Homo sapiens: one gene and its partners. The protein of the gene in region 1 purifies or fractionates together with the protein of each later gene. This does not show direct contact. Each region holds a gene or a part of one and is shown on either strand. Other genes may lie near its edges.

Evidence for each region.
Region 2: the proteins of DAAM2 (region 1) and NFATC2IP purify together in Homo sapiens (affinity purification with mass spectrometry; one large-scale study listed by BioGRID and IntAct). This does not show direct contact.
Region 3: the proteins of DAAM2 (region 1) and OSTM1 purify together in Homo sapiens (co-immunoprecipitation; one large-scale study listed by IntAct). This does not show direct contact.
Region 4: the proteins of DAAM2 (region 1) and C1orf198 purify together in Homo sapiens (co-immunoprecipitation; one large-scale study listed by IntAct). This does not show direct contact.

What each region holds. Positions count from the first base shown.
Region 1 is NC_000006.12:39,870,344-39,879,044, forward strand, and holds part of DAAM2 (disheveled-associated activator of morphogenesis 2), read left to right. Parts: coding exon 1-100; intron 101-1,162; coding exon 1,163-1,229; intron 1,230-2,894; coding exon 2,895-3,012; intron 3,013-4,986; coding exon 4,987-5,125; intron 5,126-7,859; coding exon 7,860-7,918; intron 7,919-8,060; coding exon 8,061-8,245; intron 8,246-8,701. UniProt on the Homo sapiens protein: Key regulator of the Wnt signaling pathway, which is required for various processes during development, such as dorsal patterning, determination of left/right symmetry or myelination in the central nervous system.
Region 2 is NC_000016.10:28,964,265-28,967,592, reverse strand, and holds the end of NFATC2IP (NFATC2-interacting protein), read right to left. Parts: 3' UTR 501-3,328; downstream 1-500. UniProt on the Homo sapiens protein: In T-helper 2 (Th2) cells, regulates the magnitude of NFAT-driven transcription of a specific subset of cytokine genes, including IL3, IL4, IL5 and IL13, but not IL2.
Region 3 is NC_000006.12:108,040,670-108,049,370, reverse strand, and holds the end of OSTM1 (osteopetrosis-associated transmembrane protein 1 precursor), read left to right. Parts: coding exon 1-118; intron 119-4,530; coding exon 4,531-4,586; 3' UTR 4,587-7,962; downstream 7,963-8,701. UniProt on the Homo sapiens protein: Required for osteoclast and melanocyte maturation and function.
Region 4 is NC_000001.11:230,849,518-230,858,218, reverse strand, and holds part of C1orf198 (uncharacterized protein C1orf198), read left to right. Parts: intron 1-2,211; exon of another isoform or gene 2,212-2,341; intron 2,342-2,500; coding exon 2,501-2,551; intron 2,552-8,701.

The DNA of each region.
Region 1 (8,701 bases):
ATCTGGAGTTCCGCCTACATCTACGGTATGAATTCCTGATGCTGGGTATACAGCCTGTGATTGACAAGCTCCGGCAACATGAAAATGCCATCCTGGACAAGTAAGTTCCAAGCACCCGTCTCCATTGCAAACCTGTGGGGACAGTGCCTCAGATGGGGATAGTTGGGACCTTTGTGAAGGCTGCCCTTCCCTCTGGAGACCAGCTGCCATTCCCAGCGCAGATTCAGAATCAGCTCTGTGGGGGGAAGGGGTGCCCTTGCCTGTCCTCTTTGCTGACCTGCTTGTCTCATCTCTGATGTTATAGACAGGTGAACCCAGTAGCCCTCAACCATTGCAGTACTTCCCCCTGGGGGGCATGTGGAAATATATGAGGGTACTCTTTGGTTTTCAAACTGGTTGATGGTGGGCAATACTGGTATTGGTTGTTGGGGGCCAGGAATGCTAAATGTCCCGCAGTACCTTCCTGCTCAACAAAGAAATGTCCCACCCAAAATGCTTGCTATAACGCCCTTGTTGATCCAAGGGCACAATTATGTTCCCATGTGATACCAGTGAGGCCCCTCTGGTTCTGTCCCATTAGTTTAGGCTATTTTATTACACTAGGTTTTAAGGGACAGAGGATGGATCCTTTTGAGGTGGAACAAGTGGATGTGTGCATGAGGATAGAAAATGAGGGAGAGATTAGTTTTGAGGGTTGACTTGGAGACCCTATGAAAGTACTGGGGAAAATAGACCAGGGCTGATGTCCTCAACTGAGAGACATTGGGCGATGCCTGCAGACATTACATTCTTGGTTGTCACACTAGGGGGTGCTGCTGGCATCTAGTGGGTGGAGGCTGGGGATGCTGCTAAACATCCTCACAGATCAGCCTCCCACAACCAAAGATAAGCGAGCCCAAAATGTCAGTAGTGCCGAAGTATAGAAGCCCATTCTAAGGTGAAGGGACCCTGGATTGGCCTCCCTGAAGGAAGGTCATGGGATCTTATAAAGGGCAGACAATGGGTGTCCTACAAACAGCGGCTTCTTTCCCATTTTGCCTTCATTTTGCTTGAATGAAGCTTTCAGATTTAGCCAGTGGGGGGCTCGAAGGGGCTGTAACCCTCAACCAAGGGTGTGTCCTGGCTGTAATGTCTACTCTCTCTGTCTCCCCATTCTGTCTAGACATTTAGACTTCTTCGAGATGGTGCGGAATGAGGATGACCTGGAGCTAGCCAGGAGGTTTGACATGGTGAGGAGCCAGCAGGGTGGAGCGATTGCAATGGGGTAGTAGGGTTCTTGGTGGCCCCACAGCCACTTTTCTAGACCCCGTGTTGTGGCAGGGCTGGTGTGGGCTGGTTCCCTGGTGGGCACCCCCATGGCCAGGTCCTGTGATCAGTCATAGTTCTTCATAGAAACACAACCAATAGGATACATATATAGAGATAGACAGATGAGAGGGCATTTATTAGGCGAATTGGCTCACGCAACTATGGAGACTGAGAAGTCCCATGACAGGTCGGAGTTATTGCATGGAGAAACAGGGAAGCCAGTAGCATGGCTCAGTCCAAGGCCAAGGGCCTGAGAACATAAGGGGCCACTGGAGCAAGTTCTGGAATCCAAAAGCTGGAGAGCCTGCTGTTCTGATGTCCAAGGGCAGGAAAAGAAGGATGTCCTGGCTCCAAAAGAGGTAGACAGAAAATTCACCTTTCCTTGGCCTTTTTGTTCTCTCCAGACCCTAAGCTGATTGGATGGTGAGGAGCCCACAGGGTGGAGTGATCGTAGTATGGTAGTAGGGTTCTAGGTGGCCCCACAGCCATTTCTCCAGGCCCTGTGCTGTGGTGGAGCTGGTGTGGGATCTTCCTTACCCAGTCCTCTGATTCAAATGCCAGTCTCTTTGGGAAACACCCTCACAGACATACCCAGAAAGAATTCTTTACCAGCTATCTGAGTATCCCTTGATCCAGTCAAGTTGACACCTAAAACGAACCATCACATCTCACTTCCAGAGCCTTGGTAGTATGCAGGCTGTGGAAGCCTCCCCCGGGAAGGCATCGGCCTAGGAGGAGACTGAAACCCCCAAAGGAAAGGGAGCAAGTTATTGCATGTGATTAGTCTCAAATACCTTTCCTGGGCTGACTTTCCCCTGCCTTCCAGCAACTTCCTGAGTCCCCTCTCCCCATCCCTAACCAGATCATGCTTAGCAAACTAAATTGTATTTTCATTTTAACCTCGGCAACCCTGAAAGCACACAACTCTGCTTTATTGTGTTATAAAATCCCCATCCAAATAGAAAGCTACTTTTGGGTGGTGCTTTACAGTCACTGAGTGCATCCATTATATTTTCACAAAAGCCCTGGATTTATAGATACAGAAACAGAGGTTAGAGGGGATAAGCAGCTTGCCTGTCATCACACAACTAAAGCGTAGATCTGGGGTTTGAACCCAGGTGGTGGACCTGCGCCACATTCCACCTGCTACTTTGAATCCTCTATGCCCCTGCTCCCTTCCCTAGTTTGGATCAGTAGCTCTCAAGCAGGGATGATTTTGCTCTCCTCTCCCCCTGGGGACATTTGCAATGTCTGGGGACATTTTGACTTGTGTGAGGGGGTGCCACTGGCATCTGCTAAGGAGAGGCTGGGGTGCTGATACACAACCTACAAAGCACAGGGCAGCCCCCACAATGAGTAATTATCTGACCCAAGATGCCAATAGTGCTGAGACTGAGAAACTCTAGTTTATAAAATTGACTATCTCCCTGTTCCTTTTGTCTTTCTCTTTTTAAGCCTGGGCCAGAGGCAGGGGAAGAAAACCTTTCCTATGAGACAGGGCATAGTGGATGGAAGCAGGGTCTTCTCTCTCCTGCTGACTTCCTCTGCTGCCTACCCACTGATCACTGTGCCCTCTTCTCTCCCAGGTCCACATCGACACCAAGAGTGCTTCCCAGATGTTTGAGTTGATCCACAAGAAGCTGAAGTACACGGAGGCCTACCCCTGCCTGCTCTCTGTGCTGCACCACTGCCTGCAGATGCCCTGTAAGTACCCTGCACTTGCTGCTTCCCTCGACTGGCCTGAACCTTGACTTGGGGCAGGTTTAGACAAGACTTTGGGACCTCCCTGGTTTGGGGAGTCTGACCATGTCTCCCTGTGCACTTGCTTTTGGGAGGGCAGGCCCCATGACGGAGGCCCCTGCTTTTCCTTCCCTCCTTGGGGTCAGGTCTTCACTGTCATCTGGGGAAGGAGCTGGGGACTTGGCCCTGAGCAACTCCAACATCCTAGTCCAAAAACGGTAGCTTGATCATTGCAAAATTAAATAGCTCAGCTTTCAGCTCATGACGGGGGAGAGATCAGTCATGCTGGGGAGTTCCAAAAAGTTTTGTGCTTGGGGGAGTAGCACAGATGTGGAATGAACATGGTTGTTTTTTTCCTTAAGGTTTTATCAACTCCTTCATCTAGTCCTTGTTGGCTTCCACTCTTGCACTCTTGCCCCTGCTTCTGCCTACAAATACCAAATGTCAGCATCTATGGGAGCAGATGGCTAAGTTCTTAAGATCCAGGTGTGCACAGTGATTGAATAAATTGTACATAATTGCTAATAGCCACTCCAGAATGCAATTTGAAATGAGCTTTAACTGTACCCCTTGGTACTTAAGCTCTTCACAAAAGAGAATATTTTGAAAACCAGTGTGGCCCACCATAATGGTTGATGTTGGCGGTGTCAGCAATCATAGTGACAGTGATGACAACTGTGACTTATTGTGTGCCAACTCTGGGCCAGGCGTGATGTGAGGTCCTTTAGCACATCATCTCTGAACCTTAGAATGACCTAAGGAATACACATTATTATGTCCATTTGAATAGTGAGTGAACCTGAGGCTCAGCGAGATATTTACATATAGAAAGAATTTTGGTTTCTGCGGGGTCAAGGGTTGAGATAAAACATGTTCTGCCTCTTTGAGCTAGTGACCTGGCTTTACACGATTTTGCTGGGTGAAAAGTAGATGGTAAATGATACAACTTTGCAATGCATGTGTCAGTAGACTTGTGGACAGGATAGATGCAGTGACCTGAATTAAGAAGCTATCAGTTCTCCAAAGCTCATTGCAGCAGGTCTTCATGAAGGGCATAGAAATCTCTGGGAAACCTGACTTCTTGTGCTCCCAGGGATTCCTGTGTTTCCTGTTCCATGGGCAATGTGAATGGGTTCTTCTACTCTGCCCCAAAATGGGGCTTTGCAGACTCGATATTCTACCTTGTAGGCATTGTGGTTTGCTTTGATGTCAGGATTGAACTTGTTGGCTTTTTATGATGGTCAATAAAGTGCTAGGGATCAAGGACCAAGGAAAGAGAGTTTGTGGTTATTACATAAAAAGGAAGTCCATGTCCAGCCAGATGACTATCATTAGAGGGGATGAGAGTGAGACTCTATGAGATCACACACAACACACTATGCCTTTACCTTCATAGTTCAAGGTCACTTCCACAAGAAATTTTCTCGAGTTCCATTAAGCACTTCTCTAACCCATTTTGACTCTCAGTGCACACCTGCAATCAGTTTCCCTTCATCTTTCTCTGTAGAGTAATAATGTGGATAATCCTAAAATCTTTTTTAAAAAAAACTTCCCTGGAGACTTCATTATTCAGCATGTAATATTTTGGAGCAGGTGGTTTTTATAGATAATGTAAAAAGCAATCTGCACTTCCTGGGCATAGTATGCCCAGGGTCCAAACAAGGAAGAAAGGCAGCCAGAAAGTATTTCAGGGAGTAGAGAAATATGTTGGGGAGGTGGTTGACACATCCGTAGAAGTCTAGTTGCCGATAATCAAGAGATGACTGAATCAGTGAGTTGCCATTATCAGCAATGGCATTGCCTCTTCTTCTAGACTGGGAGCTTACCATAGGTGGAGAAGGGCATGCCTCACCAGCCAGACCCCAGGCAGCAACTCTAGGGTGGGGCCCAAGGGGGACTTCAGGACTCAGGAAAGATATGATACCTGTCATCCCTCAGACAAACGGAACGGTGGCTACTTCCAGCAGTGGCAGCTCCTGGACCGCATCCTCCAGCAGATTGTCCTCCAGGATGAGCGGGGTGTGGACCCTGACCTGGCTCCCTTGGAGAACTTCAATGTCAAGAACATCGTCAACATGTGAGCAGTGGCCAGCCTTTGCCCTGTCTTCCTCCACCTTCCTCATCACTCTCCCACTCTGGTCTCACCAGCGAAACCTCAGCTCCCTTTCGCAACCCAGTCATCCCGAAATGAGTCTTGGGCAGCATGGTCCAACAGAACTCTCTAAGCTAATGAAAAAAGTGCATTTCTCTACTGTTCAACATGGCAGCCAAATGTGGCTATGGAGTACTTGACACACGGCTAGTATGACCAAGGAACTGAATCTTAAAGGTTGTTTCATTTAAATTTCAATAGCCACATGACACGTGGCTAGTGATTACTCTCTTGGACAGCCAACACAGGTGTATTGGGCATGTTCTCAACTCTCCACGATCCACTGCATGGCTTGGATAGATGGGGAATTTAAACACATTAACGTAGAACAAGGGTCAGCAAACTATGGGTGCATGGGCTGACTCCAGTCCTCCAGCTTATTGTGTATGGCCCATGAACTAATAATTTTTACATTTCAAACAACACACACACACAAGTATAAGTGACAGAGACTATGCATGGTATGTAAAACCTAAAATATTTACTCTGGCCCTTTATAGAAAGTTTGCTGACCACTGACATAGAGCCTGACCATTTGATCATGAGGTTGCTGGATAAGGTTATCAGAGCCTAAGGCCTTCTGGTTTACCATATTTTATTGATCTTGGATAGAGAAACACAGAGAAACATTTAAATCTACATCAATTAATAATAAGGCCTTACATTAACATACTAATTTTTAATTTTAAGCTTTTACTTAACTTTCAGTATGAGTTTGAGCCACTTGCCCTTAAGGAGATAAATTGGCTGTCAATGATTCATTATGTTGCATTCCAAAGCCAAGTACACAATTATTTTCCAGCTATTCTTGCTACTGTTTTCATTTGCATAGTCAGATATTGATGTAGTTAAAATCCTAATTGGTATGTTGGACAAGTGCAACTGGGAAAGTGATCAAAAGGTGACTTTAGTTTTATTTCCTACCAATTCATTACACTATTTAGTAGGCAATCTTTTCCACTGCCAGAGGATAAAAACTCCTGAGGTCCAATGAAGTTTTTAACCCTTCTTGGGTAACAGGAGTCCTAAGATCACTTTCAAGTGCAACATAGTCTGAAATCTACAACTAGGAGGACTAAAATCATGACATGACATTCTAGACATGATTTAGCCTTAAATCTTTCTCCTCCACCAGCTGGGGCCAGGAAACTGGAATGGGAAGGGTGTGTGTGTGTGTGTGTGTGTGCGTGTGTGTATGTGCATATGTGTGCACATATGTCTGTGTGTGATATTTGCCTTCTTTTCTCTGTTCTATTTACCCTGTAACCCCTTCTATCTCCCACCCCTCCTTTCTACAAACCAGTCCGACCCTCTGAAGAGGCAGCCTGGGGACAGGAAGGAAAGAGGGAAAAGGTCTTACTTGATAAGATAATTTAGTAAACAGGCTCCCTGCTCTCTTGCCTTTTTGGCATATGGGTAAAGACGTCAGTGTGTTCCTGGAATCTTCAGAAGTTCCTTGCTGGGTGCCTCTCACTACAAAACCCAGCTCACTGGCCATGCAAGATTTTTGTTCCAGCTGGCTGGCTGCTTCCAGCTCTTCCATCTGTCCCTGGTTCCCTGGCAGTCCACTGCCTGTAGACTTATGGTGTGGATGTTCCCACTTTTCGCTCAGGTGGAAACAGCTCCCCTTGCACAGGACTGTGAAAACTGCACCCCAGTTCCTCCATGAGGCTTATATCTGACCCATGGGCAACCCTCATGCCATCTCTTGTGCCAACGAACTCTAGGAGTGCTGGCAGGGCCCCACACAGCAGTGTTCTTCTTTTGCTCCCAGGGCTTTGCTTGGTTCCAAGTAGGGCCCCAGTCTACCCTACCTCCCTCCCAACTTCAGGGAACATGAGTCAAAACTCTTGGGGAAGGCCCAAAGAAACCCCTTCCTTGGATGGTGGTGAAGGAGGTAGCATCTTGGGGATAACAGCAGTGGCCCTCTTCAAAGAAATGTCTTCATGAAATACTCTCCCTCTCCATACTCTGTTCTCTATGTCCTTGATGTGGCTGAAGAGGCCAAAAGTCATGGGTCTAACTCTTCCACATTCTCAGATTTATAAAGGAAAGGATTCTTGGGATCTCGCTTTGGGATTTCACCTCTGTTAGGCCTTGGTGTCAAGGTAAAAGCTAAATTTGAACACAGTTTCAAGAGCTTGGCATGAACAAGGCTGTCCTCTGTGTCACTCTGAACACATTCAGTCTGTATTGCTGGTGTGGGTGATGTCTCTTGCTCTTACGCATTGGTCTTTGGAAACCTGGACCATGGTAGGGCCAATATTTTGATCTCTTTTAAAGGTAAAACCTATTTTACAAGGAGGTGCAAGTCATGATATAATTCTTGGGAGCCTGAGGTTCAGTCCTAGTTCTACCATTAATTAGCTCTTGCCCTATCCCCATTCTCTGAGCCTCAGTGGCTCCGGCTGTATCACAAAGGGGCCGGGTTATAGGGTATCTAAAGGTCTTTTCTCTCACGGTCTCCACAGACACATAATGTGAACGGGGCAGGGGACCTGGAGAGACACCTGGGAAGTCTAAATCCTAGCCCCCTTGATGTGGCTGGACAGATTGGAGACCAGGGTCCCCACCTGGAGGGTAGAAAGATGATGTCTCCTGGGAAGCTGTGAATCAATGGTCAACAATCACATTGCCCCTTCCCTCTATGCCCTGCCAGGCTCATCAACGAGAATGAAGTGAAACAGTGGCGAGACCAGGCAGAGAAGTTCCGGAAAGGTGAGGGGCTCTGCTTAAGCCTGCTGTCCACTCCACATGCCCTTCCCCTGCCCAGCCCATAACTCCATGCCCTTCCAGGCAGGGAGTCACATTACTCACATTCTCTCCTTCTGTTTCCTCTCCCGTCCCACCCCCATTCCAGAACACATGGAGCTTGTGAGCCGTCTGGAGAGGAAGGAGCGGGAATGCGAGACAAAGACATTGGAGAAGGAAGAGATGATGCGGACGCTGAACAAAATGAAGGACAAGCTGGCCCGGGAGTCCCAGGAGCTGCGCCAGGCTCGGGGACAAGTGGCAGAGCTGGTAGCCCAGCTCAGTGAACTCTCAGTATGCAAGCATCTCCCCCTTTACATAGTTGAGCCAAGACCCTGGGCTTCAGGACTGGGTGGGCAGAGCAGGTGTCGGAGAGGCCAAGGACCCCAGCATGAGGGAGAAGGGAGATGGAGACCTTGGGCCAGGATAGAAGAGACCCTTGAGGCTGTACAGGTGGCATCTTTGTGTTAGAAAAATAATGTCCCTTCCTCTGGGTGACACTGTGCCAGGAAGCACACCTTGGACAGCAGAGTGCAGCTGGAATTGGATCCACTTCCCTCTCTCAGCTGGAGATCTTGTGCAGTCAGTAACCTACACAACTGCATAGATCAGTCCTGCTGTTGCATTGTGATGGCTATGACTCTGATTGTCCAGTGTCCGTGTGCGTGACGTGTGTGTGTCTGTGGTGGTGGTGTGTGTGTGTTTGCGTGTGTTAGATGTTTGGATGCAGAGAGAGAAAATGGGGCCAAA
Region 2 (3,328 bases), on another chromosome or scaffold:
CCACTTCCAGTAAGCAGGCAGGAGGCAAGTGAAAGAGAGGGGACAAGCTGCCCGCTATGCACACTTCTGGGAAGTGATACCCCATTCCACTTACACCCCAGGAGCCTGTATTGGCACTTGGCTACATCTAGCTACAGTGGAAGCCAGGAAGTACTGTCTTAATTTTTTTTTTTTTTTGAGACAGGGTCTTGATTGTTGCCCAGGCTGGAGTGGGTTGGCACAACCATAGCTCACTGCAACCTCAACCTCCTGGGTTCAAGCGATCCTCCCACGTCAGCCTCCCAGGGTGCTAGGTAGATTCCAGGTGTGTGCCCCCATGCCTGGCCACTGTTTTTATTCTGAGTGTCTCTGTGCCTCGCTAAAAACCATGGGTTCTAGTACCACAGAAGGAGGAAGAATGGATGTGAAGGAATAAGGATCTTATTCCTGTCTCTGTCACAAGGATCTTAGTGGGGGTCACATGAGGGCCACAAAGACAAAAATCCTCCAGTATACACAAGTTGAACATATTGCCATTTATTTTGTTGAGGTTAAACATATAATTTTAACGTATTCAAACTTATTAATGGACATTTAAAAAGCTGAAAAAGTGAAGAGCTGTACCATGTCGTGGATTATTTTAATGTCATAAAATTCAAAGGAATGCCACATTTCAATAAAACATTTTAAGAAGTTGACATACTTTTATTAGAATCATGCAAATATTAGAGAAAGGTTAATGGCTTTTTTTTTAGTAGACATTACTGAGAAAACTGGCTCATTATATCACAAAAAGTGAAACTTGGATCTCATATATAAAGGTGTATTTCACTGAATTTTTTTTTTTTTTTTTGAGACAGAGTTTCCACTCTTGTCGCCCAGGCTGGAGTGCAATGGCGCGATCTTGGCTCACTGCAACCTCTGCCTCCTGGGTTCAAGCGATTCTCCTGCCTCAGCCTCCCGAAGTAACTGGGATTACAGGCGCCTGCCACCACACCTAGCTCATTTTTTTTTTTTTTTTTTTTTGTATTTTCAGTAGAGACAAGGTTTCAGTCTTGAATTCCTAACCTCCGGTGATCCACCTGCCTCAGCCTCCCAAAGTTCTGGGATTACAGGCATGAGAAACCATGCCCAGCCGATTTCTCTCATTTTTTTTTTTTTTTTTTTTTAAGAGACAAGGTCTCGCTGTGTTGCCCAGGCTGGTCTCAAACTCCTGGGCTCAAGCAATCCTCCTGCCTTGGCCTCCTGAGTACAAAAGTGCATCTCAAATAGTTTTAAAATGATGTGCAATATTTAGCAACCAGTACAGCCCAGCATCAACCAATTAGAAGAAGTGTCTGACTGTTGAGAACAGATGCAGCCAAGGTGTCACCCCGGTGTGTACCAGCTGGACTTCAGCACTGTGTAGTGTTCTCAATATGAAAGGAAAAGCTGAACAGCTAACAGGAGAAGATGTAAAATATCTTAACAACTCTATTAAATAAGCAATCAAAAAGCAACCAACTGCAGAACAAGATAATTCATACTGTCTACATTAAAATTAAAATTTTCTTTTTTTTTTGAGACAAAGTCTCTCTGTCACTCAGGCTGATGTGCAGTGGCACTGTCTCTGTTCACTGCAGCCTCCACCTCCCGGGTTCAAGTGATTCTCCTGCCTCTGCCTCCTGAGTAGCTGGGATTACAAGCATGCGCCACTGCACCCAGCTAATTTTTGTATTTTTAGTAGAGATGGGATTTCACCAAGTTGGTCAGGGTGGTCTTGAACTCCTGGCCTCAAGTGATCCACCCACCCCGGCCACCGAAAGTGCTGGGATTACAGACCTGAGCCATCACGCCTAGCCAAAATTAAGAATTTCTGTTCAGTGACGGATACCCCTAGATACAAAGAAAATTTCAATTTTTTCCCCTTTAAATCTTTTTTTTGAGTGGAGCCTTGCTCTGTCGCCAGGCTGGAGTGCAGTGGTGGAACCTTGGCTCACTGCAATCTCCGCCTCCTGGGTTTAAGCGATTCCCCTGCCTCAGCCTCCAGAGTAGCTGGGACTACAGGTGTGCGCCACCATGCCCAGCTAATTTTTTGTATTTTAGTAGAGACGGGGTTTCACCATGTTGGCCAGGAGGGTCTCAATCTCCTGCCCTCATGATCTGCCCGCCTTGGCCTCCCAAAGCCCCCTTTTTAATTTTTTTTTGTAGAGACGAGGTCTCGCTATGTTGCCCAGGCTAGTCTCGAACTCCTGGGCTGCAGCGATCCTTCTGCCTGGGCCTCCCAAAGTGCTGGGATTACCAGTGAACCTCCATACCCAGCCCAAATATGCATTCTTGGAATTATCTGCAATTGCCCAAGAATGTACAAGCAACTCCTGAGAATAAACCAAAAAAGATAAGAAACTCCATGAGAAAATGGGCAATGCACAGGAAGGGAAACCAGAAAGGCTAAGTGAAAAAATTCCCCAAATTAATGCTGATCAGATGAATGTATGTTAAAGCACTGCACCACTATCTACCCATGAGACTGGCAAAAATTAGGTAGTCTGGCAATACAAGTGCTGGCAAGGATAAGGAGAAAAGGGCGGCCTCAAGTAGGAGGGTCAGTCACCGTTCTAAAGAAAATCTGGAAAACCAAAGAGAAACTGACCTCTGTGACCTATAGGCCCATCCTGGGTACACATGCCACACAAGCACAGAAGGGAACACACGAAAGGATGTTTATCGTGGCCTGTATCCGGTGCCAAGGGGTCAGGGGCACCCAGGTGTCCCCCACTTTAGGCAATGTGTGTAAACTGCAATTGACATTGTGGAGTGCCACATGGCAGGTCAAAGCAATACTGCATTTCTAGAAGAGTCAATGGGGCTAGATCTTAGCACACATTGAGTGAAAACAGCATAAGACCTATTGCACAATAGCACTATGTACAGTAAAAGCACATATTCACACATGAAACGTGGTATTTTACAAATACATTCATATTCAAAGACATGGGTGCTTATGGGAGAGGATGGTGTAAAGAAAGGGAAAAAAGCCATAAAACCAGAGAATCTTTGCATGGGACTGTATTCCTGAGATCCCAAACCAAAGGGATGAATGTGCTGTTATGCCTTAAATGTGTGCACCAGGAAATGCAAACTAGAAAGGGTGGCTCTGAAGGGTCCTCAGGTGAGGAAGACCCCCAGGGCTGAGAATCCACCACCTTCATCCTTCAAAAGAGTACCTCAGTTGTCTGCTTACGCTTCAGCCAGCATGTGTGAGCTTGGTCATTTCCTGCAAGCCAGGCAACCACACCAGTGTATAAGCCTCAAGCAAATGTCACTCCCAAGCCCCAAATGGGACTAAGGCCTCTGCTGGGCTAGGCGT
Region 3 (8,701 bases), about 68 Mb from region 1:
CCTTGCAGTGACACAGTGCCTGTAATTGCTGTTTCTGTGTTCATTCTCTTTCTACCTGTTGTCTTCTACCTTAGTAGCTTTCTTCACTCAGAGCAAAAGAAACGCAAACTCATTCTGCGTAAGTTTTTTACAATTATTTATTTTATAGATAAAAGCCTGTATTTTAAAAATTTAGGCCTGTTTTAGAAATGATAGCTACTCTGAGAACTCAAAGTAGATTAGCCTAAAAGGACTCTCTGCTTTAAGTTTTACAATCATGCTTACTAGTGAAAGAGATCTGTGAAAATTTTATAAGTGTGGACAATAAAAAGTTAAAACAGGGCTAGGTGCAGTGGCTCATGCCTGTAATCCCAGCACTTTGGGAGGATGAGGTGGGCGGATCACGAGGTCAGGAGATCGAGACCATCCTGGCTAACACGGTGAAACCCCATCTCTACTAAAAATGCAAAAAATTAGCCGGGCATGATGGCGCATGCCTGTAGTTCCAGCTACTCGGGAGGCTGAGGCAGGAGAATCATTTGAACTTGGGAGGCGGAGGTTGCAGTGAACCGAGATCGCACCACTGCACGCCAGCCTGGGAGACAGAGTGAGACTGTCTCAAAAAAAAAAAAAAAAAAAAAAGTTAAAACACAGTGTCTTTCAGATGATTAAATTGAGAAAGCTAGATTACCCCTGGAATAAGGTTGGCAACAACAGAAGAATAACAACAGAGGCTTTGCACTCCTAACATGGCAATAGCAGGGAGATACAGACAGCTCTTAGACCCATCGGAGTCATGGTAGAACCACCTAAGTGTGGCAGGCAGGAAGAAACTATAGCTGACATAACAGACAGTTTGTTTGTGAACAAATTGGAATCGTAGTTCCAAGGAGATTACTTGATATAATAGTATATGCTCAATACATATTAATTCCCTTTCTTTCTCCCTATGAAATAGGCCAGAGCAAAAGAAGCACTAACTAGAGATCCCATCCAGCTAAGGAAGAGTGGCTTCTAAGTCACGTGGCTTTCTTGTTTATTATCAGAATGAAAGTACAGGCTTATGCCTTAATAATTTTAGTTTTTAAAAAAGAGAACTGTTTAGGGGAAAAGGTTAATTTTCTTTTCTCTCAAATACTATTTGTAGTCTAGGAATGTCTGATATAAAAATTCTTTTCCCTATAAATTTCGATCACTACTTCATCTAACTTCACTTCTAATATATCTAATTTTTTTAAAAAAAGGTTACCTGTAGATCAGTTTGAACTGAATTTGTAATGTTTTGTCACCTTAAAATGCTAGCTACTAGAGGGGAGAGTCTTTGTCATGGGTGTATTTATTAAAGGTTTTTTGAAGGCTGCCAGCATTCTGTAAATATGCAGTAGCTCAGGTCCTTAAAGCACTTACTTAGAATAATAGCAAAATATTGTGGGCACCTCACCATTGAGAAACTATTTTTCAGAGCTTGGTATACTTTTAAAGTTTAGCATCTTATTTGCCTTGCTAATCTATTTAACTTTATGGAAAGTATTTACTGCTTCTGATCAGGATTTTTTGTTTGCTGTCAAAGTAAAAGTCACTACCAGTGTCACTATTTGCTATGGAAGCCACAAACCTTGTAGTCATTTCTTAATTATTTTCTTTCTTTTATTTTTCCATTCCCACATTCCCCTCTCATCCCCTTTTAATTCATTAGCAAGTATGCTGCCAGTTCTGCTTAGTCCGTCTCTCTCCCTCCACTGGTAAACCCTAGCCCAAACCATCTTCATCTCTTATCTGTACTAACGCAAGAGCCCCTTAACTGGTATCCCTCCTTCCATTTCTTGATCTACTAAAATCCATACGCCACATAGTGGCTAGAATAATTTTTTAAACACAAATTCACCATGTTTCTCTACTAACTTGGAATGCTTAATGTGTTCCCATTGTACCTAGAATAAATCCAAACTTACTTTCCAGGGTCTGCTCTCCAAGCTGTACATGACCTGGCCCATAGCCACCTTTCTAAACTCGTCACATCCATTCTCCTCATTGCTCATGGTGCTGTGGACAGTCTGGTTCCTTTCTGTTCTTCTCCACTACCAAGCTCATTCACACTGCCCCTTTTCCAAGGCCCTTCCCTCTTTACTTACCTGGCTTCTTGCAAGCCAGGTCTTAGCTCTAAAGTTACTTGCTCAAAGAGACCTTTTATGACTCCCCAGTCTAAGAATACACCTCTCCATTTGTTCTTCTGTGCCGTCTTTCTTTAATGGCACTTAATCACTTAAACTAATTTAAATTAAATAATTGGTTATTTAAATCATCTTTTTCATTTATTCTCTACTTTATTTGTTTGTCTTCCCTGCCTGAAGGGAGGAGCTAACTGCATTAGAGGTGTTGAAATTCACCGTTAGATGATCCCTGGGCTAGAATTTTAAAGGATGTGGGGATTTATCAGGTAGGGAATATAAAGGCAAGGAAGATGTAGGTGTATGTACTCATTCGTATTTAACTTGTCCAGTTTATTAAGTCATTTGAATTTTGTCAGAAGCTAGATCACTTCTAGTAGTTTTTAACAAAGTAATTCTCAAAAACCCAAACTATTGATTTGGTTTGCCTCCCAAATCTACTGAAGGCTTAAGAAGTAGATTTTAGTTTAGGCCAATGTTTTTAGTTTAAGTTTTCCCTTTATTTTAAGCTGAAGCAGTACACTCGTCCAGGAAGTCATGTTGTGATTTTCCACTTACAGTTGATAGAAACCAGAGACAGGCCGGGCGCGGTGGCTCACGCCTGTAATCCCAGCACTTTGGGAGGCCGAGGCAGGTGGATCATGAGGTCAGGAGATTGAGACCATCCTGGCTAACACGGTGAAACCCCATCTCTACTAAAAATACAAAAAAAAAATTAGCCGGGCGTGGTGGCAGACGCCTGTAGTCCCAGCTACTCGGGAGGCTGAGGCAGGAAAATCGCTTGAACCCAGGAGGCAGAGGTTGCAGTGAGCTGAGATCGCGCCACTGCACTCCAGCCTGGGCGACAGAGTGAGACTCCGTCTCAAAAAAAAAAAAGAAAAAAAAGAAACCAGAGACATTGGTAGGCCAGGCACGGTGGCTCACGCCTGTAATCCCAGCACTTTGGGAGGCCGGGGCAGACGGATCATGAGGTCAGGAGATCAAGACCGTCCTGGCTAACACGGTGAAATCCTGTCTCTACTAAAAATACCAAAAAAAAAAAAAAAAAAAAAAAATTAGCTGGGCGTGGTGGTGGGCACCTGTAGTCCCAGCTACTTGGGAGGCTGAGGCAGGAGAATGGTGTGAACCCAGGAGGCGGAGCTTGCAGTGAGCCAAGTTCGAGCCATTGCACTCCAGCCTGGGTGACAAAGCCGAGAGTCCGTCTCAAAAAAAATAAATAAAATAAAATAAAAAAAGAAACCAGAAACACTGGTTCTCATCCTTGGCTACACATCAGAATTATCTGCAGAGCTTTAAAAAAGTACAGGTACTAGGGTCCCATTGCAGAGCTTCTAAATCATAACCCCTACCCAAGTTTTGTGAAGCTCTGAAGTAGGGAGACTCTTAGTTACTCAGTATAAAATACTCTCACTATGGGCATGATTGTTTTTCATTTCTAGAACATGAGAAACATTCATGTTTAACTATAAGTACAAAACATATTACCAAGCCAAATAGCCATGATTTGTTTTATTAACCCTAATGACTCAGTCCCATTAGCATCAAATCAGAATTGATGGTAACGTATTTTGTTAGCAGCCATATGTGTTTGTGTGTTTATATAACATAAAACTCACTTTTCTTTGAGGATCATTAAAATTTTTTTTTTACAATACAGAGTTCCATAATAATATACAACTCACTTTTCTTTGAGGGTCATTAAAATGTTTTTGTTTTTTTTTTTTCCCATTACAGAGTTCTTTCACTGATTTTTTTTTCATCTGAAAATAGAAGCAGTTTTCTTTCTTTCTTTCCAATATGTATAGCTTTCCTTTTCTTTCTCTTGCCTTGTTGCGCTGGTGATAAATTAGTGGCATGATGTCAAGCAAGACCAGGTATTTTCGTCTTATTCCAGATCTTAGGGGGAAAAATCATTCAGTCTTTCACAGTTAAGCATAATGATTGCTATAGAATCTTTGTACATGCTCTTTATCAGGTTGGGGAAGTTTTCACTGAATTCTTTTAAGAGAAATTCAGATTTGGATTTCTAACTTAGACTTTTAGATGTATAATTTTGTTATTCTACCTTATAGCACTTTCATTGTCTAAGTACATTTATTTCACGTACATTACATATTTAAGATTGTGATGTTCAAGAAGATATAAATGATGTTGTTTTATTTGTACTGCTTCTAACAAAGTCATGTGCAATTTCTAACAAAGTTATGTGTTTTTAAGGTTGGTAGAAAAAAGTTTTAATTAGGTTTTAATTCTTATAAGGCTGGAACTGTTAGGATTCAAACATAGAATTAATAGATAAATACTATAGATTACATAAAAATAGTAAATAATCATGTTTGATAATTAAATTTAAATTAAAATATAATTCTTTTGATTTATCTAGCCAAACGTCTCAAGTCCAGTACCAGTTTTGCAAATATTCAGGAAAATTCAAACTGAGACCTACAAAATGGAGAATTGACATATCACGTGAATGAATGGTGGAAGACACAACTTGGTTTCAGAAAGAAGATAAACTGTGATTTGACAAGTCAAGCTCTTAAGAAATACAAGGACTTCAGATCCATTTTTAAATAAGAATTTTCGATTTTTCTTTCCTTTTCCACTTCTTTCTAACAGATTTGGATATTTTTAATTTCCAGGCATAGCAATGTTATCTATTTTAATGTGTATTTGTCACAATAACAGAACATGCAAGAACAATCATTATTTTATTTTATAGGCATTTGATTACTATTCTAGACTTCTGGTATCTTCTTACTAACATAAATATCTCAAGTAGAAAAGTTTTTGAAAACTAACATTTAAAAATTAATCAGTTACAGTAAAGACTTTGAAAAAGAAATGTACTTGTTAGGAAGTAGCTTAATTACCCCCCATTGCAGTATTATTGTTATATATATAGTTAATATGTTGTACATCACAATAATATATAATTCAGTCTCTAGTTTCCCTAGAGTCATTTTTGAAACCACTGATTGCAAACCTCCCTGACAATTTTTAAAAGTAGTAAGCCACATTACATTTATCTTTGTAAAAAGATTTATGGTAACTGGTTTCTTACTTGACTTTTATAAATAGTATTTTACATCTTATTTTTGCCTTTATTTCATAAGTAATTTAAAAATCACTGGATTGCTTTATTATATTCAGGGCAATATGGATTATTTTTATACCAAGGATTTGCATCGTGAATTACATTAAGTTATTTGGCAATTTATAATTTATTACTACTTTAAATCAAATGTAGCATTATCACACTGTATTTAAATTGTCATTTTTTAAAGGAATATTTTCTTCTTAAGATATATAGAGGATTTTGGAGAAGAGAGACAGGAGGGGTAAAACCAGCTTAAGGTTCAGCGAGCAGAAAGGGACCTGAGAGGATGCTCACTGTAAGACTGTTGGACAGTGGTGTGTATTGAGGGGATGAATCGGAACGATAGTCTCATGCAGAAAATAGTGAGATTAAGATCATCCTTATTGTTTCTAAATTATTTCAATCAGATGAAAGTGATACGATTGAAATGAAATCACATAGTTCGTGCTCAGAAATTCTATTTTGGTATGTTTGTATTAGCCTTTAGAAAAAACACTCCGTTTCAGAATTGTTCACAGTTTTATTTCTTAGGTTTTTAGAGTTCAGGATTTCATTTATTAATTTCTTCTTGCTTTTTTGGTGGAAATAGGCTTTGTTGTAAACATTAAGAATATAAAATCTCCTCTATATAGAAACAAGAATTTTGTTAAAAAGAGAATTTGAATCCCTTCCTATACTATAAAATGCTCTATAGGGAGACAAAGTGTTTCTTTTTTCTTTTATGTTTACTGTTTATGTGGAGTGAAATATAAGGCTCTTGGATGTATAACATACTCAAAAGCTGTTACACTTTCTCTGATCTGCTGTGATCCACTGAAAATGTGCTGGGGTTTGTTCTGCTGTCACTGTTTATGCTGCTGGAACTTAGCACTGTCTTGATTTGAAGCATATGATTGAGAGCCATTTGAAGCAATCTTCATTAATGCAGATAAAACAAGTTTACATGTGCAGAGTTAGAAAATGACATGTTCAATTCTGTAAGTGGTGACTTTTTGAGCACCTTTCAGTATTATGTATTTGTAAAAACCATTGTTTTTGGATATAAAGCTAATAAGCACTTTAAAAAGGAAAAGGCAGCCTTTACTATTTTTTCTGGTTGAGTCATTGCTCTTTAGACCTAGCATCAGCAATAGATTTCAAAGATAAGTATTAAGCGCTACCCTAAAGTGTGTAAGTTTTTCATTTTGTCATATTGAAAAATGATTTGCATAGTACTGAATGTTGACACACAGCTTATATGTATTTACAAGAATATCTTTAAGTGTTTTTTTGACACATTAAAATAAAGGAAATAAGGAAATTGTAAGCTTTATTTGGATTTTTAAATACATTTTTAAAATTTCAGATGTAATTTAACATCACATTTGTTTTTCAGGTATTGAGTTTAGATGCCTACTTTTATGAGTACCATCAGCTGGACACAGTGTCTCATACCTGTATTTGCAGCACTTTGGGAGGCTGAAGCAGATCGCTGGAGCTTATGAGTTCGAGACCAGCCTGGACAACATAGTGAAACACTGTCTCTGCAAAAAATACAAAAATTAGCTGGGTATGGTGGTAAGTGCCTGTAGTCCTAGCTACTTGGGAGGCTGAGATGGGAGGATGTCTTGAGCCCGGGAGGTGGAGGTTGCAATGAGCCAAGATTGTACCACTGCATTCCAACCTGGGCGACAGAGCCAGACCTTGTCTCAAAAAAAAAAAAAAAAAAAGAAAAAAGAAAGTACTGTCTGTCTTAAATTTTGCTGCAAATAAAAATGTACTTTGGATTATTTATTGTTGAACTTGAGAGATAGAAATAACATCAGATATATTTTTTCTTTTTTTTTTATAATTAATTTTTTTTTTTTTTTTTTTTGTAGAGACAGTGTCTCACTATGTTGCCCAAGCTGGTCTTGAACTCCTGAGTTCAAGAGATCCTCCTGCCTTAGCCTCCCAAAGTGCTGGGATTACAAGCATAAGCACCACACCTGGCTGAACATCAGATATTTTAAAGTGTAGCCCAGAGTCTAGTTGGTAAATGTTACTTATATTGGGACTAGTATTTTCTAATGTTTCTGGGATATGCTCCCTATAAAATGAAATGTTTTCCTGGAACAATGCTAATTAGGATTGCATTCCTGGCCAAAGACATGACATCAAATAAGTAATAGACATCACCAGCAATGAATTTTGAAAAGCAAAAAATACTATTAACCTATATAACCATTTAAAATTTAAAAAATTATGTTCCAAGTACCTCTATTTTCTGAGCTAGAAGAAACCTTAGAGGCCATCTGATGATAGATTCCCAGAGCTGGATGGATCCCTAGGGACTACCTAATCTGACTTTCTGTCCACTGCATGGATTCTTCTAAAAAGTATGTCACTTATTTCCCTACCTTATTAAGACTAAATAAGTGGAACATCATAGAGCTCTTTATTTATAACAGTCATTCTTTGATAGTCAACTCTTAAATGGAGACTTGAGATGCTTAAATATTGTACTACTGTGCTTATCTTGTAAAGATTTCATAAAATGATAGTATTGGTTATTTTAAAAAGGCTTTGGCTTATGCTGAATTATACATGTAGCACCAAAATGTTACAACTCTACTAAATTTCCTTGTTCTAAACTATTATATTAGCTATAATAAATATTAGTCATACATGTAACATGTTTAATGACAAATAACTTTCTTTATCTCCTTGGAATTAAAGAGGGCTTTTAAAAGATAATTTGACTGATCCATGCTTCTTACAGTGTGGAGCTTTGCAATGATGATTTTTTAAATATGTTTTTCTTGTGATAAACAGGTATTTTTTAAAATCTGCTGGGTGTGGTGACTGGTACCTGTAATCCCAGCACTTTGGGAGGCTGAAGCGGGAGGATCACTTGAGCCCGTGAGTTTGACACCAGCCTGGGCAATATAGTGAGACCTTGTCTCTACAAGAAATTAAAAAACTAGCTGAGCATCATGGTGTGTACCTGTAGTCCCAGCTACTCAGGAGGCTGAGGTGGGAGGATCGCTTGAGTCTAGGAGGCAGAGGTTGCAGTGAGCCAAGATTGTGCCACTGTACTCCAGCCTGAGTGACAGAACAAGACCCTGTCTCAAAAAAAAAAAAAAAAAATCCATCTCAGTACCCCAATGCAATCAAAAGATTTCAGAGCTTTAAAATGAATGATGCTGGGTGCAGTGACTCCTGCCTGTAATCCCAACACTTTGGGAGGCTGAGGCAGGGTGATTGCTTGAGGCCAGGAGTTCAAGATCAGCGTGGGCAACAAAGTGAGACCCCCATCTCATATTTTTAAAATTAAAAAGTAAAAGGAATGATAGGTTCATTTTAGCTAGAAATTGTGATAATTCCTCCATTGTCTCAAATGCTCAGGATCATGTCTGAAAGATTTGCCCAATAGCATTGGAAGTGGAAAATAATTCAATTGTAATTTCTCAGATAATTGTATATAACTAGAGTA
Region 4 (8,701 bases), on another chromosome or scaffold:
CCCTAGCATGCACACAGAGACGTGGACAAGGAGCCCCCTAGAGCTGAAGGCTGGCCCTCTGCCTCTGCTAGGAGACATCTAATCACAAAGCCTTGGTAACTCACATTCCTCCAGGCATCCATTTCCATTTTTGGAGGAATGAAGTTTGTGCATTGGGAAGTGACTTGAGTTTAACTGAAATTCCAAACAAAAAGGCAGTGGTTCCTCTCATTTTTAAAGGTTTTGCTTGACAGCCATGAGGCACTGCATACCAATCAGTTCAGAAGTCAGGATCATAAGCAAATACCATTACAGGACAGTGACTGTAACACTCTGAGGATGGGGGTCATCTTACTGTGCACATGGTCATTAGTTGCACACACTATGTGGTTCTCAGAACTGACTGTTTGATACACTTTAATGCAGCTTAACCCAGTTTGTAGGGCTTTTCCCTCACTTTTGTAATTCTTAATATTTATACCTAGTATCTTTGTTAGTGGTGTTTTTTTTCCTGATATAAATATATTTAGTCCTTTTATATGCTGTCCTGGGAAAATAAAGACCTGGATTCTGGCCTTTTGACAGTCTCCTCTCTGGGTTTTCCTTGCTCTTTATCCCCAGCATATGTGAAGTATTTGTGCCACAAATGTACCAGCCTCTACTGCACAGAGCCAAGGCACACAGCACAGCCATCAGGACACAGAACCAGATCTCTACCCTGTTGATGGCTGGCTCTTCCTCCTGGGGCCAAGAGCTGTGAAGAGCCTGTGCCCCCACATTGGGAAGTCTTGGGGGAGTGTGAGTGTTGGGAGCGGGTGATTGTGGGGGAAAATCAACCTGTGAAAGGATCCGGGCTTGTGCAGAGTTTGTTTATTCACATATTCTCAAAGAGTGAGTAAGCGTCCGCTACGGGCAGTCGCTGAGTCTTCCGGGCACTTGGGATAGAGAAGCGGACAAAGGCCCTGCTGTGTTGCCCCTGTCATCTAGGGTTGGCCGTGCTTGGGCTGTGCTGGGGAGTCATCACACACTTCCTTCCCTGTCCCCGCTTCTTGGGAATAGGCCTTCAGCTGCCCAGACCCTGGCATGCCTTCGTTATTTGAGTTCAAAGACTGACCTCCCACTGGCTGTTCATGTTAGGAGGCGTCTGCACAGAGAACGCACACTCGGGGTCTGGAAGGCTGAATGTGTACACTTATGTGTTGGTGAGGCACTCCCCCTGCGTGGGCCCTGGCATTTGCCCCCAGTGTCTGAGGCTAAGCTAGGGTGGCGGAGGCTCTGTCAAAAGCTGAAAGAAGAGGGTCTGTGGGCAGAACTGGTTTGCCCTGTAGAGGAGAGGGAAGCCAGACCCTTGACTTAGGGGCGCAGAGTCGGTGTACCTATGGGTGGGAAGAAGACAGTTATCCAGGGATACTTACGGAAGGACATAAATCACCTGGAGTTTTGGGGAGATATGGATATGATCTCCGTTTAAAATATTTTATCCCATTTTAGCCTGTATCACCCAATGTGTCCTGATTTTTTGTTCTGAAAATATGCTCCCAGTAGAAGCAGTCAGACATGGTGCACACCTGTAGTCCCAGCTGCTCTGGACACCCAAGGCAGGAGCATCCCTTGAGCCCAGGAGTTTGCGTCCAGCCTGGCCAACATACTGGGACCCCATCTCTTAAAACAAACCAACAAACAAACAAAAGTTACCCAATCGAAGCTGGACACAGATGAGACATTTGCTAGCACAGGAATAACTGCGGGTAGAGGGTGGGATATAAGGAAAGGTGGCTTCCCCAAGTCATTTGTGCAGGCCAGTGAACAAAACATACTGGATCCAAGGTCAAATTCGTAGTGATTGTTCTATAGGGCTCTTTCTGTCCTGTTCTGTTTGGTGGGGGTGGGGAGTGATTTCAGAGTTCTTGTTATAATTAGTCACATGGATTACATTGGCGTTTTTCTTCATTGATTCTGCTGATCCATGCCCTCGAGCTCTCTGGTAGGCCTGTTGGGGAGGAGGGGAGCTCCTGTATTGGCATTGACTGGCAGATTATGGCTTGGCGTTCTTTTCCCAGATTACCTCATTTAATCCTTACAACAGCCCTGCAAGGGAAGTATCATTTTGCTTTTACAAATGAGAAAACTGAGGCTCAAAAAGGCTGAGTCATCTTCCCATGGCCACACAGCTAATCATTGTTCAGGGCTGAGTCTGTGCCTGATTCTGCTGAGACCATCAAGCCCTCATCCACTCCTACTCATCTCATCTGTCTGAGTCCATTGGGGGGCCTCACCGGCATTCCCTGTTGTCTGTTTGGCTGGGGAGGGGAGTGTCTGGCAGCCTCAGCGGGAAAGATGAGGGAGCAATCTGATCAAGACGGTCAGCGCATTATATTGAGAGTGTCAAAGCATCAGGCTTGTTTAGAGCCAGGAGTTGGGATTATTCCTAAGTTTTGGTTCCCCCACGGTCCTGGGTGGATATTTGCATGGGGTATGTCTGGGTTTGAATTTCAGACTTATTCTCGATTTTTTATTTCAGGATCTAACTTGGCAAGATGAGCACTCTGCCCCTTTCTCCTGGGAAACAAAGGTAAGTTGGATTAAATTTAGATCTATTTGTTCTTTTAAAAAGAACTGAGTAGTTGTATATTTTTCTTTCAGCATTTGATGGACTCAGAAGACAGCCCCCTGACTGCCAGGCTGCAGGGGATGTGTCCATTGTTGGTAGAAAAGGAGGGGATGGGAGGAGCATGGTGAGGAATTAGGAAACTATTGTGTGTGGTTTGGTGATAGTGAGTTCAAAGTAGTAGTGCTTTCTGCCAGGGTCCAATGACGCCCCATGATGCCCATTGTCTAGGACTCCCGGCCAGCTTGGTTAAGGGGGCCAGCCCTCTTGGGGGCCCTGTCTCTGCTCATACCTCTGGTTCCCAGCACTTAGCACCTTGATGGGAGATGCCCCATAAGACAAAGCTTTGAGCAAATGGGAGGTGACGAGCTGATTGATAGACATAGACATCCATTTAGCTAATTCATCCCAACGTGGATCACTAATTCTGTCTCCCAGTCATTCTTCTTCTCATCATTATCATCATCATCACCAGAGTTGCTTAAGAGCATCAAGCTTCACTGATTTTAATTCATTTTCCCCATCTCCTAAGTTGCCCCAGTAGAAGTACATTCATAAGCAAAATGACTAAAAGACAGGTGTCTTTAACCCAAGGGACAGAAATAAAAGACCAAGATTTTCTGAATTCTGGAACATTTGGTGATGTGTGTTGGAGGGTTCTTTACGTCATGAGAGTGTGTTACAGACAGAGACGGTGGTGAGCCTGGAATAGGGCTCGGACTGCTGGGCAGATCAGGGTTTTTAAATACTGATACCTCAAGGCACTTGTTTTTTGGTTTTTCACTTGTCCACATCATTGCTGATCAGAGCCCTCATCCCAGCAGGAGACCTATGAGGAGGGTGGGCCAGAGTGGTTCATGAAGGACCCTGAGAGGCCCTCATGTTGGCGACTGTGTCTTAAAATGAAATATTGCCCAAGGGTTCAGATGGACACAAGGACAGCTGACACTGTTCTTGGCACACAGACAGTATTTAGTAAGCTATTGCCGATTGCCCTGGGTGAAGTGAGCTGGCCTCAGGGCGTGGGAGCGTGGGACAATTGAGATGAGTGTTAGAGTTAAGAGGTGGTTTTGGGGAAGGCATGGCATTAATGTAGTCTCCCTAGGGATCGGGTACGGGTTGCAGGGGTGACCAGCACTGTCTTGGGAGAGAGCACAAGATGTTAAGGAGCCGCCTGCAATTGGAATAGCTTCTAAATCCAACACTGGATCCTGTGTCTACTGACATTGCAAAGGAAGTCATAAGTGGGTAAAAAGTGCATCATTACATTGATTCTTAGCCAGGGCCCTCAATATTCCTCTTCTATGGGCTCCCAAAATGGGTAATTGTGAGAAGTACTAATCCTATAGATGATATCTAGTGGTAATAGCCAGATAGATTCTCTGTGTGTTGGAAATGAGCAGCCTTGGGTATGGTGACCCAGAAAGCAGTGCAGATTTTCCTGGACTGGGTCTATATTTGAAGATATCATAGTGATAAAGGCAAAGGAAAGTAAAAAATAGTTAAAGTGTCCTAAGACCTAAGCTCATCATGTTCCCCACGAGAACATCTGTTCTCTTAAGAATTTAGCTTGTTAAATGTTCCTGAATCAGCTATTTGTGGGACAGGACATTTCATCTTTTATTAACTTGGCATAAATGACATTCTGGGACAAGGTGGTGCAGCTCCTGGAGTGGCCACTGATACAAGCACAGCTGCTGGGGCCAGAGTGGGAAACAGGTGCCTGGCGAAGATCTCGAGAAAAAAGAGAGCAAGTACAGTCCACTTGAATCACACTTGTGCTGAGAGGCTCATTGTCCACAGATGCCAGCATATCTGGTCCCTTAGGAACCAGTGTAAGTTGAGGAAGCTTGCTAAAATCTGGTTAATATGTGTCACCCATCAGAAATTGCATCCTTTTAGTAAAGTGTAGTCTTCATAGCTCAGAGTTGGCAGTTTCATTTCATACTCCTGTTAGATTAGAGTTCCAGTTTGTTTCACAAACTGTTGGGCTCACTCTGTGTCCTCACCTTCCTGTTTGATCTCTCGAGGTCAGACTTACTATAGTTTACTATTAGAAACGTCTAGGGGCAAAATAGAGCGTATCTCAGAGAGCAAGGGAGCTGTCCCTTCCTCCTTCTTCACTAGGCAGTGCCGAGTTTTAAAAAGCCCATCACTCATTCCTCCTTTGTCTTAACCCTGGAGTGCCCTGCCATCCTGCTTGAAGAGATTTGCCAAACTCTTCTTAGGACTTAAAGGCTTATAAGATCTTCATTGGAGAGCCACAAACAGGAGGTGGCTTTAGTGAAGGTAGGACCCCCTAATCTCCAATTGCAGGACTGGAGGGAGACTTGGACCCCATTTCTTGTTACCTCTCAACTGATGCCTTCCTCACTCTATCAGTTCTCTATAGATGCATAACAAACTTAATGGCTTGAAGCAGCATTTTATGTGCTCATGATTGTGTGGGTCAATGATCGGAGCAGGGCTCAGCTGGACTGTTCTTCCGTTGGCCTTGCCTGGGATCACTTATGTGTCATCTGATCGCCTGATGGGAGCTGGGTGCTCTGAGAACCTTGCTCACGTGTCTGGTTGGTGCTGGCTGTTAGCTGGGCCACATGTCTCCAGCAAGCCAGCCTGGACTTCTTCACACAGAGGTGGAGAGATCCGTGTGCGGGAACGGAAGCCTACGAGGACTCTTTTGAAGCTTAGGCTGGGCAATTGCATAGTATCACTTCTGCTCTGTTCTGCTGGTCAAATCAAGGCACAAGCTGGGCCAGATTCAATGTTTGAGGAAAGAGATTGCACCTCTTGATAGAAGAGCTGCAGAGAGTTTGCACCCATTTTAAATCTAAGATTGTATGATGTCATTCATTCCTTGGTTAACCTTGGCCATTTCTTTCCATTTTTAATTAATCACTCATTGATTTTTTTAAGTTTTATTTTTAATTGTGGCAAAATACACACAACATAAAATTTTCCATCTTAATCATGTTTATGTGTATAGTCTGGTGGCATTCAGTACATTCACATTTTTGTGTAAACATCACCATCATCCATCTCGAGAACTCTTTTTAAAAATTATTACTTTTTAATTGACAAATGAAAAATTGTGTATATTTATGATGTACAACAAGATGTTTTGATACGTGTGTACATTGTGGAATGATTAAGTCAAGCTAATCCACACCTCCAGAACTCATCTTGCAAGACTGAAACTCTGTTCCCATTAAAGAATGACTGCCCCCCACTCTCACTAGCCCATGGCAGCCACCATCTATTTTCTGTCTCTGAAATCATTCATTGATTTTTTTTTTCCAGTAGATATTTATTGTATACCCCGTTTATGTCAGACATTATGCTGCAGGCCCAGAGTTGAGCATATGCCACTTCTGTGCTCGAACAACAGCTCAGTGAGTGGACAGCTGTGTTTGGTGGCAAATCTCACTCAGCACAAAAGCTATAGCCACCGAGTCACTCCAGTCATTTTCTCCATACGTTTAACCCAAATTTGTACACATGTTGGGTAGATGTAACCTCATGCCCTTCTTCAGCTATTCAGTTCAACAGACATTTAGTGGATGCCAGCAGAGTGCCCAGCTCTGACTTCTCCATCCCCTGACGAATCTACCTACACAAGGGTAAGCCTGACCCAAGGTCATGGCCATGGGCAGAGTTAAGAATCGCAGGGATTTTTGGTTTCTCACCCAACTGCTGCACCTCTGTATGGGTTCCTTTCTCTTGGCCAGCCCATGACCATTCCACCTCCACAGAATGAGCTGCGGTTGTGCTTGGGACCTGTGGTCGCTGCCCCCATGCAACGCAGCTTTGATCAGGAGAGCTCGCTGCAGCCTCACAGTAGCAGCTGTGCACCCACCTGGTTTTCCAGCCTGTCCACCCTGCCTCGGTTGCCTCCTCTGAGGCTGATCGTGGCTGTGGTGCCTCTGTTACCCAGACTTCTTCCATCACAGAAGGGAGGCCTGCCTGTCCCAGAAGGGTGGGGGTGGTCGTGATTGTCATCTTTTCCACTCATCTATCAGCTTGGCAGGCGTGCCAGGGGAGAGGGGGCCAGTGGGGACCTAATGTTGCATTCCTGTCTCATGCTACTGCTGTTTCGAGAGGAAAAAACTCAGCACTTAGAAGGCTCCAGACAGGAGGAGGCAGGGAGTGGAGAGAGGATTCTTTACATTCCCCAGGCGGTCTGGGCTGGAGAATTCAGAGGAGAAAATGCCTTTGGGGCAGGTCAGGCCCTGCTTCAAAGTTGGCTGGGCTCTTGGGACCCCATCCCCAGCCTTGGTTGGCTGGGCTCTTGGTTGGCTGGGCGTTGTGACCCTGTCCCCAGCCTTGCCCCTCCCCCAAGCTGTCTGGCTGCTTCTCCTTTCTGGCTACCCCCTTCCTTCACCTGATGTCCAGCTGCCTATTAGGGCAGTAAGTAGGTTGGGCTGGGGATCGGTTCCTTGATTTCATGGGTATCAAAAGATCTTGGGGGGCTAATATAGATCATTCCCAGAGTAGGGAAGCCTTCCAGACGCCTCCTTGGGAAGATACATAAGCATTTATGAGCACAGGCCCTTCCTCTGTGCTGTGCCCATGATAGGGATGTGTGTGTACTCTGAATTCTTTCACCCTTGGGAGGCTGGTGTCCCTGTTCACGCTGTGGGTCAGGACACCGGGATGCAGGGGGTCAGGTGCCTGGCAGGTCGAGTGGGCGGAGAGCAATTGGAGCTCAGGTCTATCTGTGACTTTCGGGGCTTTGCTGCCCATGGTGGGACAGAAGGGCTGTTCCAGCAGGATGTTCCTGGACATAGAGGATTCATTGGCTCTGCTCAATGGTTCCTCCTCACTACCAGTCACGGGGCTTCTGAGAGGCAGGACACCATGGGGCTGCATCCACCCACCCGCAACTTGGTCTCTGTGCTTCTCACCGAGACCCCCATCTCTGCCCAGCAGTCCCCTCCCTCCCTCCTGCCCTTCCTCTGGGCTGTGCCTCACCCCTTCCTGAGACAACAGCAGACCCCTGTGTGCCCCTGCTCTTGGCCTTTCCCTGCTCTCCATGTGTGTGGGACGATGCGTCACTCGCTCAGCCCTGCCCTCAGCCCTGCACTGCCATCCCACAGGCTCTGTTCTCACCCACCTCAGGGACCATGTTCTCTTGGACCTCAGTGTTTTGCTCCGTCCCCTGACCCCTATCCACCTGAGAAGGCCCCACTTGCCCTCCAGACTCAGCACAAATCCTCTTTTAACAGTTGTCCCAATCAGGAATCTCACCACGTGCCGGGTCTGTGCTGAGCACCCTCCCTGCATTGCAGAGTGTAATCCTCACAGCAACCCACCTTACAGATGAGGAAACTATGGCATAAAGTGAAGATGTGAACCAGGCAGTCCTAAGCCCAGTGCTGGGCTCTTAAGCCCTATGCAGCTTCCAGAGTTACCCTCTTCCCTGTTACCGTTAGGAAGCACTGTGATAGAGGAAAAATGGGGATCATGCTGATGAATTCCTTGTTGGTGCGTCTTTGTCCCTGTGAGATGATGAGCCCAGAATGGCAGACACAATTATTTGTCCCTTAACCTTGACAACCCTGGGGACTGGTGCACCTCTGCACCCATTTCCTGTTGGGCCTCAGCTGAGTTCTCCCTGGCTGGTGTTTTTTGCCTTAGAGGCTGACGGGGTGGATGTTTGTTTGCTTACGTTCACGCCCCGTCTCTTTGGGCCCCTGGGTTTGTCCCTGTCAGCTGCCACTTCTACTAAATTTGTGATTCTAAAGGTTTTTAGTATCCTCCTGCTCATCTTCCTCCTCTTCCCTCTTTGGAGGGGAGGTGGGAAGAATAGATGTTAAGTGGTTGGTGAATGTATTAGGATTTGCTCCAGTAAATGATGATCTTTTCTGACAAGGCTTCTGTAGCCTTTGTCTCAACAATTTAGATCTGTCCGAGGCTGCCAAGCCAAACAGTTAGTTTTGGCAGCCTGCACTCGTCTTTTACTGAAATATTACACATTCCTCTTCAGTGAGTGGGACGTTAAAAATAGACACTGGGCTCGGTTGTGGTCCTTCTGTTTTTAGAACAGACATGGCCAACTGAGACCCAGTTCCCCGCATGGGGTGACTGACGCCCAGCCCTGGCCTGGCTGGAGGG